Linked DNA regions of Homo sapiens: regions 2 and 3 are each linked to region 1. The links come from fine-mapping of genetic effects on gene expression. A gene starts in region 1. Each other region holds a variant in brackets. All regions are shown on one strand. Distances are from middle to middle.

Region 1 (8,185 bases):
CACAAGAAACAAAAAGAAAAATAGACAAATAGAATTATTTCAAACTAAAAAGCTTCCGCACAGCAAAGGAAACAATCAACGGAGTGAAGAGACAAGTTGCAGAACAGGAGAAAATATTTGCAAATCATACATCTGACAAGGGGTTCATATTCAGAATATATGAGGAACTCAGAATACTCAAAAGCTAAATAATAATAATGATAATAATCTGCCAGAGTATGGTGGCTCACAGCTGTATTGCCAGAACTTTGGGAGGCCAAGGTGGGAGACTCACTTGAGGCCAGGAGTTCAAGACCAGCCTGTGCAAAATAGCAAGACTCTGTCTCTACAGAAAACTAAAAATTAGCCAGGCATGATAGTGCACACCTGTAGTCTTAGCTACTGGGGAGGCTGAGGTGGAAGAATCGCTTGAACCTAGGAGTTTGAGGCTGCAGTGAGCCATGATTGCACCACTGCACTCTAGCCTAGACAATAGAGCAAGAATCTGTCTCAAACAAAGAAAAAGTCGTGTATAGATACAATGGAATACTATTCAGCCATAAAAAGGAATGAAATCCTGTCATATACAACAATGTGGATGAACCTGGAGGATATTATGTAATGTGAAATAAGCCAGGCTATAGAAAGACAAATACCTCATGATCTTGATCATATGTGGAATCCAAAGAAGTTCACCTCATAGAAGTATTGAGTAGAACAGTGGTTACCAGAGGCTGCGGAGGGGAGGATGGAGAGAAAATAAAGAGAAATTGGTCAACGAGTACAAAGTTACAGTTAGATAGGAGGAATAAAGTCTGGTATTCTACTGCACACTAGGCTGACTATGGTTAACAATATTACATATTTCAAAATAGCTAGAAGAGATAATTTTGAATGTTCTCATCACAAAGAAATGATTATATAGTTTGGCTGTGTCCCCACCCAAATCTCATCTTGAATTGTAGTTCCCATAATCCCGTGTCGTGGGAGAAACCCATAGAAGGTAATTGAATCGTGGGGGCAATTACCCCCATGCTGCTGTTCTTATGATAGTGAGTGAGTTCTTACGAGATCCGATGGTTTTATAAGGGGCTTTCCCCACTTTTGCTCGGCACTTCTCCTTCCTGCCATCATGTGAAGAAGAATGTGTTTGCTTTCCCTTCTGCCATGATTGTAAGTCTCCTGAGGCCTAATTAAAGCTTTTTCCTTTATAAGTTACCCAGCCTCAAGTATGTCTTTATTAGCAGTGTGAGAAGGAACTAATACAAACGATAAATGTAAGAGATGATGGATATGCTAAATATCCTGATTTGATTTTCACACAATGTATCACATATTGAAACATCACACTGTATCCCATGAATATGTACAATTATGATGTGCCAATTAAAAACAAAATTAAAGAAAGGCAAACAAAATATCAAATGATGACAATAGGGAACAATTACATAACATTATATACTTGAGATAGGAAATTTTTTAAAAATCCATTACCTCTTGATATGGTTTGGCTCTGTTTCCTGACCCAAATCTCATCTTGAATTGTAATCCCCACATGTTGAGGGCAGGACCTGGTGGGAGGTGATCAGATCATGGGGGTGGTTTCCCTCATGCGGTTCTCGTGATAGTGAGGGAGTTCTCAATGAGATCTGATGGTTTAAAAGTGGCAGTTTCTGGCTGGGCATGGTGGCTCACACCTGTAATCCCAGCACTTTGGGAGGCCAAGGCGGGTGGATTACCTGAGGGCAGAAGATCGAGACCATCCTGACTAACACGTGAAACCTCGTCTCTACTAAAAATACAAAAAATTAGCCAGGCGTAGTGGCGGGCGCCTGTAGTCCCAGCTACTCGGGATGCTGAGGCAGGAGAATGACGTGAACCCGGGAGGCCAAGCTTGCAGTGAGCCAAGATTGCGCCACTGCACTCCAGCCTGGGCAACAGAGTGAGACTCTGTCTCCAAAAAAAAAAAAGAAAAAGTGGCAGTTTCCCCTGCACTCTCTCTCTCCTGCCAACAAGTAAGATGTGCCTTGCTTCCCCTTCACCTTCAGCCATGATTGTAAGTTTCCTGCGGCCTCCCCAGTTATATGGAACTGAGTCAATTAAACCTGTTTATTTTATATATTACTCAGCCTCAGGCAATTCCTTATAGCAGTGTGAAATCGAACTAATATACCTTTGAAGCACTCAATACATTAGAAACATTTTCTAAACAGAGTTATGTGGTCCTAAAATAATAATAATAAAATACAAAATCAGTCCTCAGAAAATAGGCCAGACAGGATGACTCACACCTATAATCCCAGCACTTTGGGAGGCCAAGGTAGGAGGATTGAGTCCAGGAGTTCAAGACCAGCCTGGGTAACACATTGAGATGCCATCTTAGGAAAAAAAAAAAAGAAGAAGAAAATAAACAATAATTAAATTTTATCTCAAAATAGCCCCATAAATTAAGTGGAAAGGTACTGATATTTCCATTTAACACACCAAGAAACTGAGGCTCAGTAACCCCAAAGTCACAGTTAGTCAGGGCTGGTGCCTGGTTCTCAAATCTCAAGTTCCTGAGTCAAGCTAGACACCAGGAATGGAGAAGGGGAAAATATAAACTGACCCAGCATCATATTATCTCTGAACGGCCAAAACAAGAGTGGCATCAACTCATGAGAAAATAAGGGACTGTTCTTTCCGTAGTAAGTAGATCCAAGGGAAGGAGATTCCATAAAATGTTCAAAAAAGGTCTTAAATAGAGGGTCTAAACAAGGAGTACTTAAACAAATTAATTCACCACACAATTGAGAAAATGCCAGGGCAGTCACAGAACTGAGCTACAGCAGGCACAAGCGGAGTAAGCACAAGCACTGTCACCCTTGCTGTCTGCCAGCCCCGTGTCTCATCCCCACATCCTGACTTCCAGTCTGCTCTCTGAGGACCCTGGTTGAATTTCCTAACTTCTAAGATAGCTTCCAGCATCAAACTGTTAGTATTGTCCAGAAAAGAAATGAGCTTTTTCTTATTTTCTCTTTTTAAATTACACTTACCTTATTTGTACCTCAATATCTGTACACATAGTTCCCTGTCCTGACCCTCCTTTCCTGCCGTGAGCCTGCTGGAAAGCTTTTCACTTTCCTCTCTGGTCACCACATTTTGCCCTTCCTTTTAAAGCAACTCAGATGTCTCCTCTCATCTGTGCTGCCTGCTCCTTTAGCCTGCAAGAACTCTACTTTCAAAAATATTCCCTAGCCAGGCACAGTAGCTCACGTCTGTAATCCTAAGAACTTTGGGAGGCCCAGATGGGAGGATCTCTTGAGCCCAGGAGCTTGAGACCGAGAGTTTGAGACCAGCCTGGGCAACATAGCAAGACGCCATCTCTACAAAAAGTAGTCCCAGATACTCGGGAGGCTGAGGCGGGAGGATCAGCTTGAGCCGGGAGGAGGAGGTTGCGGTGAGCTGAGATAGCACCACTGCACTCCAGCCTGAGCGACAGGGTAAGACCCTGTCTCAAAATAAATATAATACAGGCCAGGCACTGTGGCTCACGCCTGTAATCCCAGCACTTTGGGAGGCTGAGGCAGGCAGATCACGAGGTCAGGAGATCGAGACCATCCTGGCTAACACGGTGAAACCCCATCTCTACTGAAAATGCAAAAAATTAGCCAGGCGTGGTGGCACGTGCCTGTAGTCCCAGCTACTCGGGAGGCTGAGGCAGGAGAATTGCTTGAACCCAGGAGGCTGAGGTTGCAGGGAGCCGATATGGTGCCACTGCACTCCAGCCTGGGTGACAGAGCGAGACTCCGTCTCAAAATAAATATAATATAATATAATATAATATAATATAATATAATATAATATAATATAATATATAAAATTGGCCAGGCGTGGTGACACACATTTGTTGTCCTTGCCACTTGGGAGACCGAGGTGGGAGGATCACTGGAGCCCAAGAGTTCAGGGCTGAAGTGAACCATGATGCCGCCACTGCACTCCAGCCTGGGTGACAGAGTGACATCCTGTCTCTCAAAAATAAAAAATGTATATATTTTACAAAAATGTAAGTAAATACAAAGTCCCAGAAGGACGCAGGTGGTACCTAGGTGGCCAGATGCTTCAGGACTTTTCTACTCCAGGATGGATAGATGGGCCAAGTAAGAAGCAGGACCCAGATCACAGCAAGGAGCAAAATTTATGGGACGCTAAAAATGTCGCCAATCAAGATTAATTAATATTAATCTAACAATATTTAAGATAACTAACATTTAAGGCAATTTTAATACGCTTATTAATATTTAAAGCTATTTTAAAAATATCCGCAAACGAGGGCCCAAGGGCTGGCGCCTGATTTTGTAAATAAAGTTTCACTGGACGTTCCAGCAAGCATCTGTCTACTCAATAACCAGACTCCAGCATCCGCAATACCAAATGGCACCGTGTGTGTCCGTCGCTAGAAGCCACTTCCTCCACCCAAGTTAAAAAAAAAAAAAAAGGCCCCAAATAAGCTGAGAGACGAAGAAAAGATCGTTTCTCCGCAGGCTGCCAGGGGTTTCAGAGACGCTGAAGAGCAGGGACAGAAAGAAGTCTGCGGTGGCCCCCACCGGCCCTCGGCACCCACATTCTATCCGGCTAACCAGCTCCTGCCGCTTTAAATCCGGGAGGCTCGGTGGCGCAGGGCAAGCAGTTGCCCGGGGAGACCAACGCACAACAGAGGCTCGCGCTCGCGAGAGCCGACCGGGGCCGCGGCCAAAGAGCTGGCTGTAATCCCGCCTCCCGCCAGCCATGGCCCACTTGCGCTCGCCTAGCGGCTTCGGAGACCCGGGGAAGAAGGACCAGAAGGAGTCAGAGGAGGAGTTAGAGGAGGAGGAGGAGGAGGAAGAGGTGGAGGAGGAGGAGGAAGAGGTGGAGGAGGAGGAGGAAGAGGTGGAGGAGGAGGAGGAGGAGGTGGTGGAGGAGGAGTTGGTGGGGGAAGAGCAGGAGTTGGAGGCCCCTGAGACGTTCAGCGAAGAGTACCTCTGGAAGGTCACGGACATCGGTGACTACGACGACGACTTCCCAGACGTGCGCCCCCGCTTAGCCAGCATCGTCAGCCCTAGCCTGACCTCTACGTTCGTGCCCAGCCAGAGCGCGACCAGCACTGAAACGCCGAGCGCAAGCCCACCCTCCAGCACCTCCTCGCATAAAAGTACCGCCCCCGACCCACCCCTTCCTCGAGGGTTTCTCGTCTCCAGGGGGCACCTGGTCCACCCACTCCTGGGTGGTGCCTTCGTCGACCTGCGCGTCGTGCCTGATTTCTAAATGCATGCACCATTCCACACACCTAATCTCTCTCACGCCCTTGTCAGAGACACTGAACCCTTGGCTGAGCTGTTGTGATGAGGCACGATTTAGGATATAGGCGAAACACCATAAAAGTTGAACTTGGGCATGGCTGTATGAAGTGCTTTTTTTTTTTTAGACAAGAGTCTCGCTCTGTCGCCCAGGCTGGAGTGCAGTGGCTGCAGCCTCGACCTCCTGGGCTCAAGCCTCCCACCGCAGCCTCTCGAGTAACTGGAACTACAGGCACACGCCACCACACCCAGCTAATCTGGCGTCTCACTATGTTGCCCAGGCTGCTGGGAGTGCTCATTTTTATAACATTTTTGCGTGCATTCACACCGTGACATCTCTCTCTCTCTCTCTCTCTGTTCCCCCTCCCCTCCCTCTTCCTCCCCTCCCTCTCCCCTCCCCCTCTCTTTCTCTCTCCCTCTCTCTCTCTCTCACAGACACACACACACACACACACACACACTCATATTATTTCCAGAGAAGTGCCTTAAGGGTGCTGTACTACTGAAACAGTCCTGCAAAAAAAAAAAACAACTCTCTTTTGTGTTTAACATCCTGTGCTGAAGCCACTCCAGTCACTTCCTTGAAAAAAGAAGCAGAGAAGTCTTCTAGAGTAGGCTTCTCAAGCTCTAGTGTTGACATTTTGGTCTGGATAATTCTTTGTTGGGGAGGATTGGGGACTGTCCTGTGAATTACAGGATATTTGGCAGCATCCCTGTCCTCTACCCGTGGCTGTGCTAGAAGCACACATCCTTGCGATGATCAAAAATGTCTCCAGGCCGGGCGCGGTGGCTCACGCCTGTGATCCCAGCACTTTGGGAGGCCTAGGCGGGCAGATCACGAGGTCGGGAGATCGAGACCATTCTGGCTAACATGGTGAAACCCCGTCTCTACTAAAAATACAAAAAATTAGCCGGGCGTGGCGGCGTGCGCCTGTAGTCCCAGCTACTTGGGAGGCTGAGGCAGGAGAATAGCGTGAACCCGGGAGGTGGAGCTTGCAGTGAGCCAAGATCGCGCCATTGCACTCCAGCCTAGGCGACAGAGCGAGACTCCGTCTCAAAAAAAAAAAAAAAAAAAAAAAAGTCTCCAGACATTGCCATGTGTTCCTGGGGGGGGTAGAATTGACCTTTTGATTTAGAGGGAATAGCTGATTTTTAAATGTTTCATTCAACAGGTTTCCCTAAAATATTTCAGACATTTAGGAAAGACATGTCTGAAATGAGTATAGATAGGTAAGAAAATGTTTTCAAATTTCACATTTTTTGAACCCAATAATGTTTACCTTTTGGATAAACATGTTAGGAAGTAGAGTAAAATAATCCAGGGCATTTGTGACTTACTTATTTTAAAAAGTTTTTTTTAAATATACACTGGTAGACACTTTGAAAGAGATAAAGGTTCCCACTTATCCCCAGCTTATTACCTAGCTCTAGAGATTACATGTCCACTTATCAATGTAACATGAAAGAATAACTATATATGCCATGTGTGCAATTGTAAGTGCTTGAGAATTTTGAATATAGCTTTTATTGGCTAAATGCAAGAGTGACCAGGGACGCCTTTTGTGGAAGAGAGTGGAAATAATAGCTTTTCCTTTTTCCTCTCTCTCTCTTCTTTTTCTTGTTATTGCTATTAGCCTTCAGGCACTTTAACTATAGTAAGAAGATACCAGTGAAATGCCTTCTGGAACATCTTTGTAAATATTCCCTGAAATCTCACACCAAACCTGAGTCAATGATCTTGAATTATTAGTTACCCTAACTTTGCTTTTGTAAGCAACTTTTGAATTCTTAAGTCTAAGGAGAATTGTTCTGTCTCACTTACATGTTTTTAGTTATCCTTTTAATTCAATTTGTAATAAAGATAATGTATACATGTGGTTAAAAAAATCAAACTACACAAAGGTATAAAAATGAAAATCTCATGCCCTTCTTCACCCCCACTCCCACTCACCTTCAGTTTTGTTTCCATTATTTAAAATGACATTTTCATTTCTTGGTTTATCAATTTCTGACATGTGTATTGAATTCCCACCTCTCCACTTTGGTAGTTATATTATTTTTAGTTTTTCTAACATTTAGGACTTCGAGGTATTTAAACCTCTACTTCTTGATTCATCAATTTTAGTATCTATTGACTATAATGAAAAATTAACATGTTAATGCACTTCCTCCTTCCATCTTTCTTCTCTCCTCTTTTTTCCCAATTAACAACAAACTATATGAAATGATAAATTATATTAAAATGCAGTGTATATTTACATAAAGTTATATTACTTTTCCAAGCTTTATTATGCTTGTATTATGGTTTGTTAATTATAATTAAAGTGCTCTGGGGTTGTTTCTAAAAATTGAAAACCAACAAACAATACTAACACTTCTATGTTGACAAACCAGTAATATGATTGAATCTATGGACAAGAAAATATAATCCTATGTCTATAAAACTTGTCTCTTAAAAAGTAAAGTTTTTGCCAGATGCAGTGGCTCACACCTGTAATCCCAGCACTTTGGGAGGCTGAGGTGGGCAGATCACGAGGTCAGGAGTTCAAGACCAGCCTGGCCAACATAGTGAAGCCCTGTCTCTACTAAAAATACAAAAATTAGCCGGGCATGGTGGCGTGTGCCTGTATTCCCAGCTACTTGGGAGGCTGAGGCAGGAGAATCGCTTGAACCCAGGAGGTGGAGGTTGCAGTGAGCCGAGATCATACCACTGCACTCCAGCTTGGGCAATAGAGTGAGACTTCATCTCAAAAAATAAATAAAAAATAATAATAATAAAATAAACTTTTTGACTCTCTGTTGTTCTGTCTACAGTTTTTCTGGGTTGGCTCACCAGCCACACTTTATTGGTTCCCATATTGTCTTCTTTCTTTTGTTGCTTTTCCTTTTGC
Region 2 (8,185 bases), 24 kb after region 1:
ATGCCTGTATTTGAAGGGCAAGAGAAAGTTTACCTCAAGTATTCCAATAAGATGGTGCACCACCACACTGCCGCTAGAGTGGTGAGGGACTGACTGGTGGAATGCTTGTTTCCAAACCTGGGCTGGATGCCATGGCCATGTGGAGAGAACTGCTTACTCCCCAGATCTGAGAACCCTTGATGACTTCTTCTTGGGCATAGTAAAGGTGGAGGTTTATTCATTAACAATAAGGGGCACGAATCATGCAAGGCAACATGTCATGGATGCACATGTAGAGATGAATGGAAATGCCGTATGGATGCACTGAGGTGGTGTTCATTGCTATTTTGTACAGCACTTTGAGCTATGCAATCTAGTGAGGGGAAACATTAAGTATATCATGTAATATAATATCTATAAACATTTACTCTTTATATTTACCCAGGTTTCTAAACTTTACGGTCACTCAACAGACTCTTCGGGCTGAAATTCTTTTGTTTTTTTATTTATTTATTGAAAAGATGTGGTCTCACTATATTGCCCAGGGTGGGCTGAACTCCTGGGCTCAAGCAATATCCCTACCCTGGCCTCCCAAAGTTCTGGGATTACAGGCATGAGCCATCACTTCCAGCCCTGAAATTCTTTATTTAAATGTAGCACCTTCCTTTTTCTGCACCACAAAGGCTTGTATCTAGGGATGTCTCTGAGGTTATACTCGCCTCCCGCAACACCCAGAGATGGGTCTTACCATGGGGAAGGCCTTGCGGCTTCTCCCCCAAGACGTCCCTGAACTGGCACTTGGACGAGGCTGGCTCCTCCTGCTCCTCAGCAGGTCTTTCAGGTCTAGTGATGATGCCAATCTAGTTCAGGGGTAGCAGTGGCTGGCTTGCCCAGCTCTTCTCTCTAGCCACACCCTCTTCAGGTGAAGATCCAAACTCCCCTCATGGTCTTTGTGTTTTTGTTTTTGTTTTGTTTTGAGATGGAGTCTCACTCTGTCACCCAAGCTGGAGTGCTGGAGTGCAGTGGCATGATCTTAGCTCACTGCAACCTCTGCCTCCCGGGTTCAAGCAATCCTCTTACCTTAGCCTCCCTAGTAGCTGGGACTACAGGCACACACCACCGTGCCTGGCTAATTTTTGAATTTTTAGCAGAGACAGGGTTTACCAGGCTGGTCTCCAATTCCTGACCTCAGGTGATCGGCCTGCCTCGGCCTCCCAAAGTGCGGGATTACAGGTGTGAGCCACCATGCCCGGCCTCCCTCATGGTCTTTTGAAGTATCTCCATCTTGCTTCACCCCTAGCTGAGGGTGAAAGGACAACGGGCTGAGAAGTTCACAACCAAGTCCCTTGTATGGAGCAGGTTGTGAATGGCTTGGTATTGCCCAGCTCTCTTTCTGTCCTACTCCATCATTTGATAGCTATCCTAGATTTTCCTCCATCATCTCTCTAGTGCGAGACTTCACTCTCCAAGCATTCTGCTTTTAGCAATGTGCAGTACTTACTATTGGGTAGTTTCAGTGGCCTAAATATGTTGGACATTACTCTGGGGTAGTGAATCCCTGGCTGCACTGGCCACCTTAGTCACTTTTTAGCCCTATGTCAGGCATTTTTGCCAGTCTCAGAGAATGGTTACCATGGCATATACAGATGCCCTGGTGTTGTTAATGATCTGCAAGTCATGATCTGGGTCTCTTCCTGGAGGCCTGTCCTGAGGCTTGGCTGCTCACCTGCTCAGGAGCCTGTGCAATCACAGACATGACCTCAGGTCATTGACATGGCCACTCCACATTGAGTCAGCTGAGCCCCTAACTCCCAATCTCTCCCTTGTTTTGTGTCCCCTCCTCCTCCCTGTCCTGAATTACCTTCACAATACAGACAAAATTCAGAGCTCCAACCTAGGCTCCCCAGAGAAAGGATTCTCATTTATTTTAGAAAGTTGGTCATTGTACATGTTGGCCTACACAGTAATGTCAAGGCTTTTTCTTACTTGGCATTTCTTGAAAGAGTTAATGATGTTCAAATACTTAGATCATTTGTATAAAATCCAGTGTGTGTTATCCTTATCTCTTGCATCTAGGTACACACTACACATTCCCCTCCCCAACAAGGGACTCTGGTATCCACAGTGAATTCATTTCTGCAACTTTCTTCTTATACCAGGAAGGCATTCTGAAGACCACACACTTCCTGATAGGCTCAACTCTGCTCTGGGGAATTGCACCAGACAGAGACCTGCAAAACACCACCTCAGGCTCCTGAAGCCTCACCAGCCCTTAAATGGAAGTGATATCACTTACTGGCACATCTCATCACCACTGCTGTTCCATTCACTGACCATGCCCAGGGTCGTGCTCCTGCTGCTCTCAGAGCCTCTGGGCCTCTTTGTGGGGACTTCTTTAATTTTTTTCCTCTCTCTCTGAAGGATGAAGAGGAGGAGACATCACCCAAATGTGAATTTTGTGGCAGCGATCTAAGAGCATTTTTTTCTAATGTGGATGTTTCCTCTGAACCAAAAGGGCATGTAAGTTCTAAGTCAGGTTTACTGTGGAAATAGTATTATCTTTAAACATATGTAGTATTTTCTCTTGCATCTTTCCCCTGCATTGCCATTTTTAAAAGAGTTAGGCCGGGCTTGATGGCTCACACCTGTAATCCTAGCACTTCGGGAGGCCGAGGTGGGTGGATTGCCTGAGCTCAGGAGTTCGAGACCAGCCTGGGCAACACGGTGAAACCCTGTGTCTACTAAAATACAAAAAATTAGCCGGGCATGGCGGTGTGCACCTGTAGTCCCAGCTACTTGGGAGGCTGTGGCAGGAGAATTGCTTGAACCCGGGAGACGGAGGTCGCAGTGAGCCAAGATCGTGCCACTGCACTCCAGCCTGGGCAACAGAGTGAGACTCTGTCTCCAAAAAAAAAAAAAAAAAAAAAAAAGAGTTATGTGTTAGCTGTCAGGGAAACGCAAATCACAAGCACAGTGGGATACCACTTCACACCCATTAGGATGGGTATAATTTAAAAGACAGATAATAACAAGTGTTGATAAAGATGTAGAGAAATTAGAACCCACATGTACTGCTGAGGTGGAATATAAAATGGTGCATCACTTTGGAAAACACTCTAGTAGTTCCTTGAAAGGTTCAACATACAGTAACCATATGACCCATCAGTTCTATTCCTAGGTTTATACCCAAGAAAATGGCAACATATGTCCACACAAAAACTTGTACAAAAATGTTGACAGCAGCATGATTCGTAATAGCCAAAATATAGAAACAACCCGACTGTCCATCAATGGATGAATGGATGAATAAAATGTGGTATATCCATACCACGAACTATTATTCAGCCATAAAAAGAAATGTGAAGTACTGAAACATGTCACCATATGGACAAATCCTGAAAACATTATGCTAAGTGAAAGAGGCCAGACATAAAGAGTGCCACATGTTGTATGGTTCCACTTTATAAACTGTACGGAACAGGCAAATTTAGAGAGACAGAATGTAAATTAGTGGTTGCCAGGGGCTGTGAAGAAGAAAGGAGAGGAAGTGACTGTTAGTGA[G/C]GACAGGTTTCAGATTCTAAAATTGATTGTGATGATGACTGTACAACTCTGTGAATATACTAAAACAAATGAATTGTACTTTTTAAATGGGTGAATTGTATGGTATGTGAATTATATCTTAATAAAGCTATTACCAGAATAAAAACTTATGATGGATTGTTATCCAAACCTTGTTAGTCATTTTTATCCCCTCTAATCCTCCTCATCTAGGACTAATGAGATGAGAGTAACTTCTGTGTTTTCCAGGCCTCCTGTTGTATTGCTTTCCAAAATCTGATTGACTATATCTATGAGGAGCAAATAAAAACCAAACCCCCTAAAGCTGAATTAATTGCTATTGACCCTCATGCAGCCCATGGTAGTGAGGTCGACAGACTCAAGGCAAAAGAAAAAGCCCTGCAAAGGTAACATTGAGACTTCGATACTGAAACTCATACAGGCCGGCTTAATCGGAGCTCGTTTTGTAAATGAACCTCATTTTTTCAAGATATATAACTTTGAAGATGTATTTCCTAGATTCACAAGTAATAACAGATCAAACAGACAAGGATGGCATTTAAGCAGCTGAATTTTGTAGTAGACTGTTTTAAGCTTCAACCACATTTCAGATTTATGCCTGATGTTTTCTGATTTTGTAGGAAACAGGAGCAACGAATGGCCAGACATTTTGCAATAATATCAAGGGAACAGACTCATTTCTCTGAAGATGGTGAGTTCATTAGTGCTGATCTTATAGACCAGCTGTACAACGTCAGAAAGCTCAGATGTTTAACCAAAAGATGAAATGGGTGTATTTAAAAAATAGTATTGGCCAGGTGCAGTGGCTCACGCCTGTAATCCCAACACTTTGGGAAGCCAAGGTGGGAGAATCGCTTGAGCCCAGAAGTTTGAGACCAGTCTGGGTAACATAGTGAGATCCTGTCTCTATGAAAAATAATAATAAGTAGTAGTATTGAAAAATTTTTATTTCTAAGTTCAGTATAGCCTACATCTGTCAAAATGGCCCAGAAAAGCTAGTGTTTCCAGCCATCTGGTTTTTGGAGTTTTCAGTCTTCATCTCATTGTTATTATTCATTGAAATAAATTAGCAACACCTACAGAGCACTTTACAGATAACTGCAAAGAGCTTTCAAGTTCATTGTCTCATATTTTATTAAGCATACTTTCCATTTTGTTTTCAAGCTTGGATATGGAAAATCTGTCAAAAATAAGTCAACTTGGCTGGGCGCGGTGGCTCACGCCTGTGATCCCAGCACTTTGGGAGGCTGAGGCGGGTGGATCGCCTGAGGTCAGGAGTTCGAGATCAGCCTGGCCAACATAGTGAAACCCCATCTCTACTAAAAATACAAAAATTAGCTGGGCATGGTGGCAGGCGCCTGTAATCTCAGCTACTCGGGAGGCTGAGGCAGGAGAATCACCTGAACCTGGGAGACAGAGGTAGCAGTAAGCCAGGATCGTGCCATTGACTCCAGCCTGGGCAACAAAAGAAAAACTGTCTCAAAAAAAAAAAGTCAGCTTATTTTCTTCATATATTAGTTGTCGTATAAGTTGGCTCACCAGTATCACTGTAGTACTGGTACAGTTGAAGAAACACTGAGTTTAGAATCAGAAGTCCTGGATTTATATCCTTGCTTTTCTCCTTACAGGCTGTCTGATTCGGGGTAAATGACTTAATCTTTCTGGGCATAAGCCTCCTCCTCTACCACCCAGAGCTACTGAAAAGATACTTAGATGGGAGCTAAGCTATGAGGACGCAAAAGCATAAGAATGATACAATGGACTTTAGGGATTCAGGGGGAAAGGGTGGGAGGGTAGTGAGGGATAAAAGACTTCACATCACTGCTCAGGTAGTAAGTGCACCTAAATCTCAGAAATTGCCACTAGAGAACTTATTCATGTAACCAAACACCACCTGTTCCCCAAAAACCTATTGAAATAATAAAATAAAAATAAATAAAAATAAAAGTTGAACTGCCAAAAAAAAAGATACTTAGAGAAGATATATTTTTATTTATTTTTGTAACTAAATCCCTAATACAAAGTTTCCTGATATCCAACTGTTAGAGTATCAGTTCTGCTAGAACTAAGGCCAGAAAGTTTCACTTAATGAAAATTGTCTTTTTTTTTTTTTTTTTTTTTTTGAGACAGAGTCTTGCTCTGTCACCCAGGCTGTAATGCAGTGGCACAATCTTGGCTCACTGCAACCTCTGCCTCCCGGTTCAATTTTCCTGCCTTAGCCTCACAAGCAGCTGGGATTACAGGCACACGCCACCACGCCCAGTTAATGTTTGTATTTTTGGCAGAGATGGGGCTTCACCATGTTGGTCAGGCTGGTCTCAAACTCCTGACCTCAAGTAATCCACCCGCCTCGACCTCCCAAAGTTCTGGGATTACAGGTGTGAGCCACTGTGCCCAGTCTCATTTTTCTTCTTTTAACAAAGGAATGTTCTCATTTTTTGACAAGGGGGAATAATAAAATTTTTAAAGATGATGAAAAATTTGAATATAAAAATGTCTTATGAATCAGTGCATTTATATTGGGGTTTGAAATTTCATTTTAGAAAAGAGGCTTTAGAAAATTTAAAACATATATGTATTTCTATGTGATTCTTTTCCCACTAGATTCAAAGCGCTTAAAAACAATTTCTTATCAACTTTCTGTGGATATTCCAGAAAAACAGATAATTGATGACATTGTATTTGATTTTCAACTAAGAAACAGTAACATGTCTATCATTTGTTGTGATTCTCGGATAGCATGTGGAAAGGTAATGAACTTGTAATTTTTTTACTTGCTATTTTAAAAAAAACCAGTTTTACCTAAAATTATAAAGTCTTTCATGAAGCTTGGCTACATGATGCATTTAACTAGTTGTCAAAAAGAATTGGTACAGACTTGGTCTTTTAACTTCTGCTAGACTTTATAACAATGTCATATGTTTGGGTTAAAGGCTGTTTACTTTAAAATGTAAGAGTTGCATATTAGAGAACATTTGGAACCCTTAGAAAATTAAAAGGAAGGGAAGAAAATTACCAAAAGTCCCAATCACTTCTCCCAAAACATTAATATTTCAATATTTTCTAGACTTGCACTGCCCAATATGGTAGCAATACTACATTTGGCTATTTAGACTTAAATTAAATTAAGAGTGTAATTTCTCAGTCACGCTAGCCATTCCACAAGTCCTAGACAGCTACATGTAACTAATGGCTACTGTACTGCAGTGATGATATAGAACATTTTTCTTGTAATCAAAAGTTATATTAGCACTGTTCTAGATGGTTTTCCTTGCATGGGTTTTTGTTAACATACTTATAATTGTATCATATATATAATTTTTATCTCTTTTTTAACTTAATTATAAAAACAAATTTTCCAAGACCAGGTACAGTGGCTCACACCTTTAATCCCAGCACTTTGGGAAGCCAAAGCAGGCGGATTGCTGGAATCCAGGAATTCAAGACCAGCCTGGACAACAAGACAAAACCCCATCTCTACAAAATAAAGAAAAATTAGCCATGCATGTTGACATGCACCTGTAGTCCCAGCCACTTGGGGGGGCTGAGGCAGGAGGATCCCTTGAGCCTGGGGGTGGAGGTTGCAGTGAACCGAGATTGTGCCACTGCACTCCAGCCTGGGTGACAGAGCAAAACTCTGTCTCAAAAAAAAAAAATTTTTTTTTCATGATATTATATAGTTTACATTAATATTATTTTCATAGCTATATAATTTATCATGTAGTTTAACCCATTTTTCTGTTCTCGGACATACTGATTCTTAACAATTTTTTTGCTATACTAAATACCATTTCCTTAAATATCCGTGTATGTAAGTACATTTCTATGTAAGTATAGTCCCTCAGAATAGACCTCTCGTAATTAAATTACTGAGACCTGGTTTGTTTAACTTGGGAGATATAGAATTTAAGGGGTGAACCAGGCAAACTGGCTTGCACCTGTAATCCCAGCTACTCAGGAGGCTAAGGTGGGAGGATCATTTGAGGCCAGGAGTTTGAAACCAGCCTGAGCAACATAGCAAAATCCCATCTCTAAAAAAATGTTTTTGGCTGGGTGTGTTGGCTCACGCCTGTAATCCTAGCACTTTGGGAGGCCAAGATGGGTGGAATGTGTGAGCTCAGGAGTTCGAGACCAGCCTGGGCAACATGGTGAAATCCCATCTCTACTAAAATACAAAAATTAGCCAGGTAAGGTGGCAGGCACCCGTAATCCCAGCTACTTGGGAGGCTGAGGCAGAGAATTGCTTGAACCTGGGAGACAGAGGTTGCAGTGAGCCAAGATCGCGCCATTGCACTCCAGCCTGGGCAACAGAGCAGGACTCTGTCTCAAAAAAAAAAAAATTTTTTTTTAATTAATTAGCTGGGCATGGCAGCACATGCCTGTAGGCTCACTTACTTGGGAGGTTGAGGCAGGAGAATCACCTGAGCTGAGGGGTTTGAGATAGCAGTGAGCTATGATCATGCACTCCAGCCTGGGTGACAGATCAAGACCCCCATCTCAAAACAAACAAACAAACCAAAAGAATGTAAGGGCTGTCAGTAAACCCAGGTGACTGGCAGAAGTAAATCCAAACTATCTTTGGAGGACGGTCACTAATTCCACCTTCAAATCACACCTACAAATTATT
Region 3 (8,185 bases), 290 kb before region 1:
GAATTTCAGACTCCCAGAAGGAAAGCAGGTGTTTGACAGAAACCATACTGTTTGCATAGACAGTTTAGTTACAGTGAACCATTCTTATCGCTTATGGAAAGTTTTGTGTCAGTCTAGGGAACTGTTTACTATTCAAGTTTCCAGATACCAGCCAAGGGTCAACATTGCAAGCAGCCGGTCTAAGCATTGCAGCCTCAGGCCTGCTATTGTTCATTCTTTTCTGCATACCAACATTAATAAGATATTGATTGATTACAACAAATTTACCCTGCATTACTGCCTCAGAGCTCTTATCACTAATTAAAATTATAAGGTATTATATGTATTTAATTACCTACTTGTTTATTTTCTGTCTCTCCTACTAGAATGTAAGCTCATGAGGGCAAGGACTTTGTCGTATTCACAGCTGTATCTTTAGCACTTCAAACAAGGCCTCCTCCATTATGGGCACTCAACAAATACTGATTGAAGGGATGAAAGAACAGATTAACAGTTCAGCCTAGGATAGAGTCAGATGCGAGATATTTTTTGGAATACTCGGCAAATACAAGTCCTTCATGGGTGGCCATGACTATCAGATCAAACAAGGCCTGAGCCATGCTCTTCACAGGCAGTATTGTTACAGAGATTCCTGGTCTGGTGCACTTCTAAAGTCAGAGTCTCTGGAGATCTCACCTGCAGCTGTATGAAGAAGAAAACATAAGAATGTTCTCTATCTGCACATTCCTTTCCCTTTCTCTTATTAAAAATAAACATTGTGCTGGTGAGTTTTTCCTGTGTTCCTCCCCACTCTCAGAAACAGTTCTAATGTCCAGATTAAGTATTTCCTAAGGGGAGAAAAAAACTGTATTCCTTTTGAAGAATGACCATCTGTGTAGCCTTGGAGAAACCCTAGAGGACTCATGAATGGAAAAGGATCTCCGGGCCAAAAATCAGTTCTCACTTAATGTCTTCTCTGGCTATTGCTCTGGCAGTTGAATGGAGTCAGATTTTCATCTTATGTAATATGACAGGACAATTCAACTTCCATTGAGTGTAGCACATATCCCTAGAGCTACATAGGACAGAACTAAGTGGTTACATAAACACATATGGAAACGTAAAAATTTTAAAGACAGGCTAAGCACTCCAAGGGACATGTTACCCCCAGGGGAAATTAACAGTTAGATCAACAAGCAGAGCTCTCCTCTAAGTCACACATGGATTTCATACAGTTTATGGCCATACTACTGGAGGGGAAAATGACTTTATGTACATATTTTTCATGACTTACTCTGAGAAGGAGAAAATAGGCAATACCTTTTATCTCAGGATATCAGGAGACAGAAAAGGGATGACCATGGGGCATACTAGTTGGGGTCAGAACAAACAATGTATTAATCAGGGATTCTGCAGGAAACAGCATACTCAAAACAACTTATTGAAAGGGATTTAATTAAGCCACTAGTTACAAAGGTATGGACAGGTTAAGGGAACAAACAAAGGATGGTGAGGCCTCCAGGGACTGAGGAAGCCTGTTCTACTTTTAGGCCTGAAGAGAGCAAAGGGTGGAGGTTGTGTTATCAAAACCAGCACAATCTATAGTCCTTGGAGAGAATCCACCCAATAGGAGCTACAGCTATGTGCAGACAGAGCCCGAACCATGAGGAAATTGGAGGGAGAGCATATGGAGATGGGGGGAACGAATATAAATAGCCCAAACTCTCTTTCTTCCCACCTACCAGTTTCTTGCTGATGCTTCTCACTGGCCACAGGAAAGCACCAGGGGCAAGGAAGTCTGTGTAAGAAAGAGCACAGGGGTCAGCTTCCTGAGGCACAGCAGGTTACAGAAGGGCCAAGAATGGGCAGACAAGGAGGAGAGGGCATGTGGACAAAAATCAACACAAATAACGCCTACTAGCCCTACTACTACTCGACTGCAGACAAGGGTTGACATTTGTTGGATGTGCTAGGCACAGTCCTATGCCGTTTACATGAATCATCCCACTTAATACTTGTGATGCGATTTACTGTGAAATCAACTAAGCTGAAGCTTCAGGCCCCTCTATTGCACAGATACCTTTCAGGGACCTCAGAGGGACCCTAGCCATAAATTTACATAGTGCTTATGGAAATTTTGCAAATGTAAGATACGTTTACCTTAATTAATTAAGGTTACTGTTTCTTTCCAATCAGACTTCACTGCTGTTACGTTTCCCTTCCCGTCAGGTGGCACTGAGTGTGGGAATTTTTTGGATATGGCTAATGGGATGTTGAGGTGGGATTACACTAAAGTTGGGTTTAGTAAGAGATTTTTAGGTGGTTTTCAATCACGCCAGTGTAGAAACGGCGTCCAGGAATACTCCTTTTATCTACTATGCTGATTCATCATGGAACCAAGCTTCACGGCCAGGGGTTGGGGTACGAAAGTGAGATACAGCACGTAATTCTGGACATACGGCTATGGAGGAGACACGAGATTTGAAAAACTCGAGCCGGAAGCTAGCCTCTGTGGAATTCTTCTAATCATAGCATGTGTAAAATTGTAAGGGGAGGGTGGAATTCTCATTGATAACTAGACAATATGGAAGTTTTTTTCTTGGCAATAATATACTGTAAAATTCAGTGCATACAATTGTAACAGCATTGTACTTTTTTCTCCTTTTTGATGAGAATTGTGTGAAGTAGAAGAGTAGAATTTCTGTGCCTGGAGGGCATATACCAATACCAGCACCACTTATATGCAAATCATCACAAATTCTACATTTTATCATGTATTTTGCAGGCCACCAAAGTAAAATTGAGAAAAAGATATATGTAAGTATATTCTAAAGTAATGTAATAATAGCAAATATTTACTAGCATGTACTATATCTGGCATTGTGCTAAGCATTTTATAGGTATTAACTCATTTAATCTTCACAGCAACCCTTTGAAGTAGGTGCTATTGTTATCCTCCTCCTGTCTTTTCTTTTCTTTTTTTTTGTTTTTTGTTTAGTTTAGTTTTGTTTTTTTTGAGACTGAGTCTCGCTCTATTGCCCAGGACGGAGTGAAGTGGCACGATATTGGCTCACTGCAATCTCCGCCCCCCAGGTTCAAGCAATTCTCCTGCTGCAGCTTCCCAAGTAGTTGGGATTACAGGTGTCCGCCACCACGCCCAGCTAATTTTTGTATTTTTAGTAGAGACGGGGTTTCACCATGTTGGCCAGGCTGGTCTCGAACTCCTGACCTCAAATGATCCACTCACCTTGGCCTCCCAAAGTGCTGGGATTACAGGCGTTAGCTGCCGCACCCGGCCCTGTCTTTTACTTTCAAAAGCCTAAACTCATTGTTGGGATCAGAATTTGAGGTGAGAGAGGAGTCCTTCTGGGGAAGTATGATCAAAGAAGACTTTTCTCAAGATGAAGTCCCAGGGACTGGAACAGACCTCAGTGGCTGGGCCCAAGGGTGGCGCCATGGCATGCCAAGGATGACCAAGGATAAAACATAGTGTGGAAATAGCTGACTTCAGACTTCAAGGAAACACTTGGGCTGAGACAGTGGGGCATTTCAGCAATTAGTAGACAATTTAGCAGGGTGGGGGCCTGAAATTATCATTAAATTGATTTATGAAAATGAAAGAAATTAATTTTGTTTGCAGAGTTTGAGGAATAAGACTTATATTTGCTATTTAAGTTTAACTCTGTGAAAATAGAAACAAAGGAATTATACACCTTGGCTTCATCTCCTTCAAAATCTGAAATACCTAATAAAAAGAATATTGGTTTGGGGACCATAAATAACTGGCTTTGAATTCCAGCTCTGCTATTTATTAGCTAAGTGACCTTGAAAAATGTGTAAAATTTCTGTGAGCCTCAGTTTCATCAGCTGTAAAAATGGGAATAATAGTGTTATTGTAGGAATTATCTTAGTGCATTTAAAACTCCTGACCTGCTACTTCATAACAGGCATTTAAATATTGGTTTTCATTATAAATGAAAATAAAATCTAAACGCATTTTCTGGAAGAAAGTGTTGCAGAAGCACAAATTACATACTACCCTTTCAATGCCACCTAGCTAATATGCTTTATGAAGAAACCCAGCTGTAATTTAAAAAAAATTTTGAACTCACCCAACGTTTTTGCCCTGCTTCTAAAACTAGAAACCAAGGAGGTAACGTGTACCCATCTGTGCACCCACACCCTTTTGAATATGAAGTTTAAATAAAAGTCTTCTCAGTCTGTTTAAACAGTACTCCTCGGCTTTGAGGCAGATAGATCTGCTTCAATTAGAACCTAATCCTGCTCTCCTCATACTTGCAATGCTCTCACTAAAACTCGTGAGAGAGAAACAATAGTCCATTTAATTAAATGATGCTGAAGCCTGAATTCAATCCATCTGTGTATTGAGAAGTAAGATTTTGAATATTGATTATTCTTCCC[T/C]GCATGAAAACTTTGCTATCTGCTCTGCATTCTCTCCCCAATAAGGAATGATGTTTTCCCTACTATAGCGGCTTTTATTTTAAAACAAACTAAATAGGCCTAGTTCTAGAACAAAAAACAATGTTATTGTTTCTCTTTTTCCCTTCAGCTCTCCATTTCGGGCTTCTGGAACTTTTCTCTCTGTCCTTACCCCACCCATCTAGTCTCAGGTGGCCACTTTCCTTCGGCTGCCCTCTGTGGCTTTCCATTCCTTGGCAGCACCCTGGGCTACTAGTGTCTCTCTCTTTCCTCTCTGCCAGCCATCTTTTTTCTCCTAACTATCCCTTAGGGAGGGTCTCGCTGTGTCTGGGACCTCACCCTGAGCAACACTAGGGATCTCCTCTTTTTTGCCTGCCCAGAAATTACACAAAAGGTGTGTATGGAAATCTGAGCGAACTGATGTCCTGCTTCTAACCTATTTGGGTTGATTTGGTGACCCATATAGAATCTGAACCCCAATCCAGCTCTCAGTGAAGGTGTTCAGTAAACGGACTCCATTCTACTCTGTGCAAAAGGGTAAGGGCCTACCCCTTGCCGTAGTCAGCTAAGGAAGAAGAGTTGGTCAATAAATTCAATTCATGATTAAGTGATTAAGTCACTTGCAACCCTGACTTTACCATAAAATAATTCAGAAAGCTTTTAATAATATTGAAGCCCTAGCCCCACTCCATCTGATTTAATCGATCTGATGTTGGACTCAGGATGTGTATTTTTTTGTGTGGTAAAAAAATACCACACAGAAAACTTACCATCTTCACCATTTTTAATTGCACAGTTCAGTAGTGCAATTTGGTTTAGTTGTACAGTTCACATGGTTGTGAAACAAATTTCCAGAACTTTTTCATCTTGCAAACCTGAAACTCTATACCCATTAAACCACAATTCCTCATTTCCCCCTCCTTTCAGCCCGTGGTAAGCACCATTCTACTTTCTGTTTCTATGAATTTGACTACTTTAGATATTCGTATAAGTGGAATTGTATAGTATTTGTCTCTTTTGTCACTGGCTTATTTCACTTAGCATAATATCCTCAAGGTTCGTCCATGCTGTAGCATGTGACAGAATTTCCTTCCTTTTAAAAGCTGAGTGATATTCCATTGTATGTATATACCACATTTTGTCTATCCATTTATCTGTCAGTGGACACTTAGGTTGCTTCCATCTCTTGGCTACAGTGAATAGTGGTGCCGCTGTGAACTTGGTATGCACCCTTGTTGGACATCTTTTGCCTAGATATGCAAGGGTTAATTTCTGAGCTCTCTATTCTATTCCATTAGTCTACATGTCTGTTTTTATGCCAATTTCACATTGTTTTGAGTACTGTAACTTTGTGATATGTTTTGAAATAACATATTACAAAGTGTCTGTCCTTTAGAGTGTGATTCCTCTAATTTTGTTTATTTTCAAAATGTGGGGCCTCTGGAGATGCCATATGAATTTTCAGATGAATTTTTCTGTTTCTGCAAAAAATGCTGTGGGAATTTTGATAGGAATTGCATTGAATTTGTAGATAGCTTTGAGTAATATGGACATCTTAACAATATTAAGTCCTCCAGTCTATGAACATGAGATGTCTTTTCATTTATTTGTGTCTTCTTTAATTTTTTCAGCAATGATTTGTTTTTAGTATACAAGTCTTTCATGTCTTTGGTTAGGTTTATTTCTGAGAATTTTTATTCTTTTTGATTCCATTATAAATAGAATTGTTTTCTTAATTTTCTTTTCAGATTATACATTGTTGTTGTACAGAAATGCAGTCAATTTTTGCATGTTGATTTTGTATCCTGCAACTTAGCTGAATTCATTTATTAGTTCTAACAGACTTTTTTGTGTGTGAATGGAATTTTTAGGGTTTTTATATATGAAATCATATCATCTGTGAACAGTTAATTTTACTTCTTTCTTTCCTATTTGGATGACCTTTCTATCTTTTTCTTGTCCAATTGCTCTGGCTTGGACTTCAGTACTATGTTAAATAGAAGGAGTAAGAGCAGCTGTGCTTGCCTTGATCCTGATCCTGATCTTAGAGGAATGAGAATTTTAAAAATTTTCTTATTTCTGATCTTAGAGGAATGAGAATTTTTAAAAAGCTTTTCAAGTGATTCTAATTTGAATCCAGGCTTGAGAATTACTGGGTTAGGTATTCATTTCCCTCATCCCAGAAAAACTGGAGCAGAGAAAATCAGGAAGGCACCTTAGGCCCCAAAGTGAAAGCTATGAAGGTAGGCTTCAATAGAATGCTTTTACTAGACCTGGTCATCGTCTCAAACCACTGGACCTAGAGCATACAAGAAAGTTTCTGATACTGGTGACAAAGTGTTCATTGATTCTCGACAGGGCTGGAGAGGATAAACTTGAGCATCAGGGGTTAACTGTTTTGATAGCCGCAGTTGGTGAGGGGATGGAAACATCAAGGGTGGGTTTTCAGAATCAAAAAGACACAAATACTGGAAGAGGTAGTGGACCAAAAAAAAAAAAAATACTCCCCAGCATTCATTCTACTTCTGATAACCAGCTCTGGTTCCTGTTTGTAGAGCTAATCTTTCCCCATCTGCTGCCCAAGTAGCTCTGATGGAATTGCCTCCAGCCTCTGTATTGAGGGTGGCATGAGACTGAGGAATGGCTCATCAGAGCTTGTGCTTCCCTTGGCCACAGTAATTTCTTCATAGATAGGCACATGGCTCCTTCAGAGCCACTGGGACACAAGGGAGCTTTTTCTTCAGATATCTGAAGCAAAGGCAGACTCTCTTTCTCTGTGCCTCGAACCTGAGGGGATGAAGAGTCTGAAGCTACTGTCACCATCAAGCCATGAAGTTTGAAGTAGAAATGAACACAGTGAAAGGCTGAGAAAAGGTGGAGTAATACTGAACCTGGATGACTTCTTTTGAACCCTGACACCAGCACTACCCCTGATCTTTTCAGTTATATAAGCGCGAACAATTCCCTTCATGCCTAAGTCAGTTTAGGTTGGCGTTTCTGTTACTTGCAACCAAAAATCCTAGCTGACTGAGAAAATATGACAGATATAAAAAGAAAATAAGAGTAAATGGTCAGACAGCCAGAACCCAGGCCAGCAGTCCTGGGCATGAGCTTTCAGCAACCAGAGCATGGCCCCTTGATATTGCAGCAATGTTGCCCTTGAACAGAACCTAATCCCTGGCTGAGGTCAGCCAGCAACTGAAAAAGTTGGCCCACTCTGCTGACCTTGCAAGAATTGCTGCAGTCCCCACACCCTTCACACCTGACAGTCTTGCAGATTACTCTTCCTTCCTTTTCCACCACCCCTCAGGCTCTTAGCACCAATTCTTTTCCTCCCATCAACACTGCTTTGAGGAAAAAAGCTAGTTAATTCATTCACTCTAAGGTTTATATGACTCATATGTTCCTATTTGTTAAAATATCTACATTTCCAAAGGGCGCAAACTATCCTTTAAATTGCCTTCGTTCATTGCACCGTCTTTGAAGTCTAATTCATTGCAAACAAATGAATTTGTCGATGCCTGTATAGCTCTATATGACACAATGATACAGTACTTTATTAATCATTACAGAATACAGGAAGCCTCAGAGTTTACTTTCCTCCTATGCAGAAAAGTGCCCTAAAAAACATCAAGGAAACATCATCACCATCATCAATATTTATTAAACATTTATTATGTGTTTAGTATCGTAGGCATTGTTCTAAGCACTTTACATACATTATCTGATCGAATCCTCACTGCTACTCTATGAAGTAGCCACATCA

What was found.
Region 2: its variant is fine-mapped to the expression of ERICH6-AS1 in lymphoblastoid cells (GTEx, PIP above 0.99).
Region 3: its variant is fine-mapped to the expression of ERICH6-AS1 in caudate (GTEx, PIP 0.97).

The regions. Positions count from the first base shown.
Region 1 is chr3:150,700,460-150,708,644 of GRCh38, reverse strand. It overlaps ERICH6-AS1 (ERICH6 antisense RNA 1), which reads right to left and starts at 5,081. Exons shown (of 3, transcript NR_121675.1): 1 at 4,978-5,081; 2 at 636-713. It overlaps ERICH6 (glutamate rich 6), which reads left to right and starts at 4,725. Exons shown (of 14, transcript NM_152394.5): 1 at 4,725-5,149; 2 at 6,467-6,524. The coding sequence starts at 4,747. RefSeq lists enhancers at 4,530-4,619, 4,770-4,849.
Region 2 is chr3:150,676,532-150,684,716 of GRCh38, reverse strand. It overlaps ERICH6 (glutamate rich 6), which reads left to right. Exons shown (of 14, transcript NM_152394.5): 7 at 2,401-2,499; 8 at 3,787-3,944; 9 at 4,179-4,249; 10 at 6,163-6,308. Among named protein-coding and RNA genes, the nearest start is that of ERICH6-AS1, 23 kb to the left of the region's middle. The variant G/C (reference allele first, on the strand shown) is at 3,541.
Region 3 is chr3:150,995,166-151,003,350 of GRCh38, reverse strand. All of the region lies in intron 1 of CLRN1-AS1 (CLRN1 antisense RNA 1), which reads right to left. Among named protein-coding and RNA genes, the nearest start is that of CLRN1, 27 kb to the right of the region's middle. The variant T/C (reference allele first, on the strand shown) is at 4,402.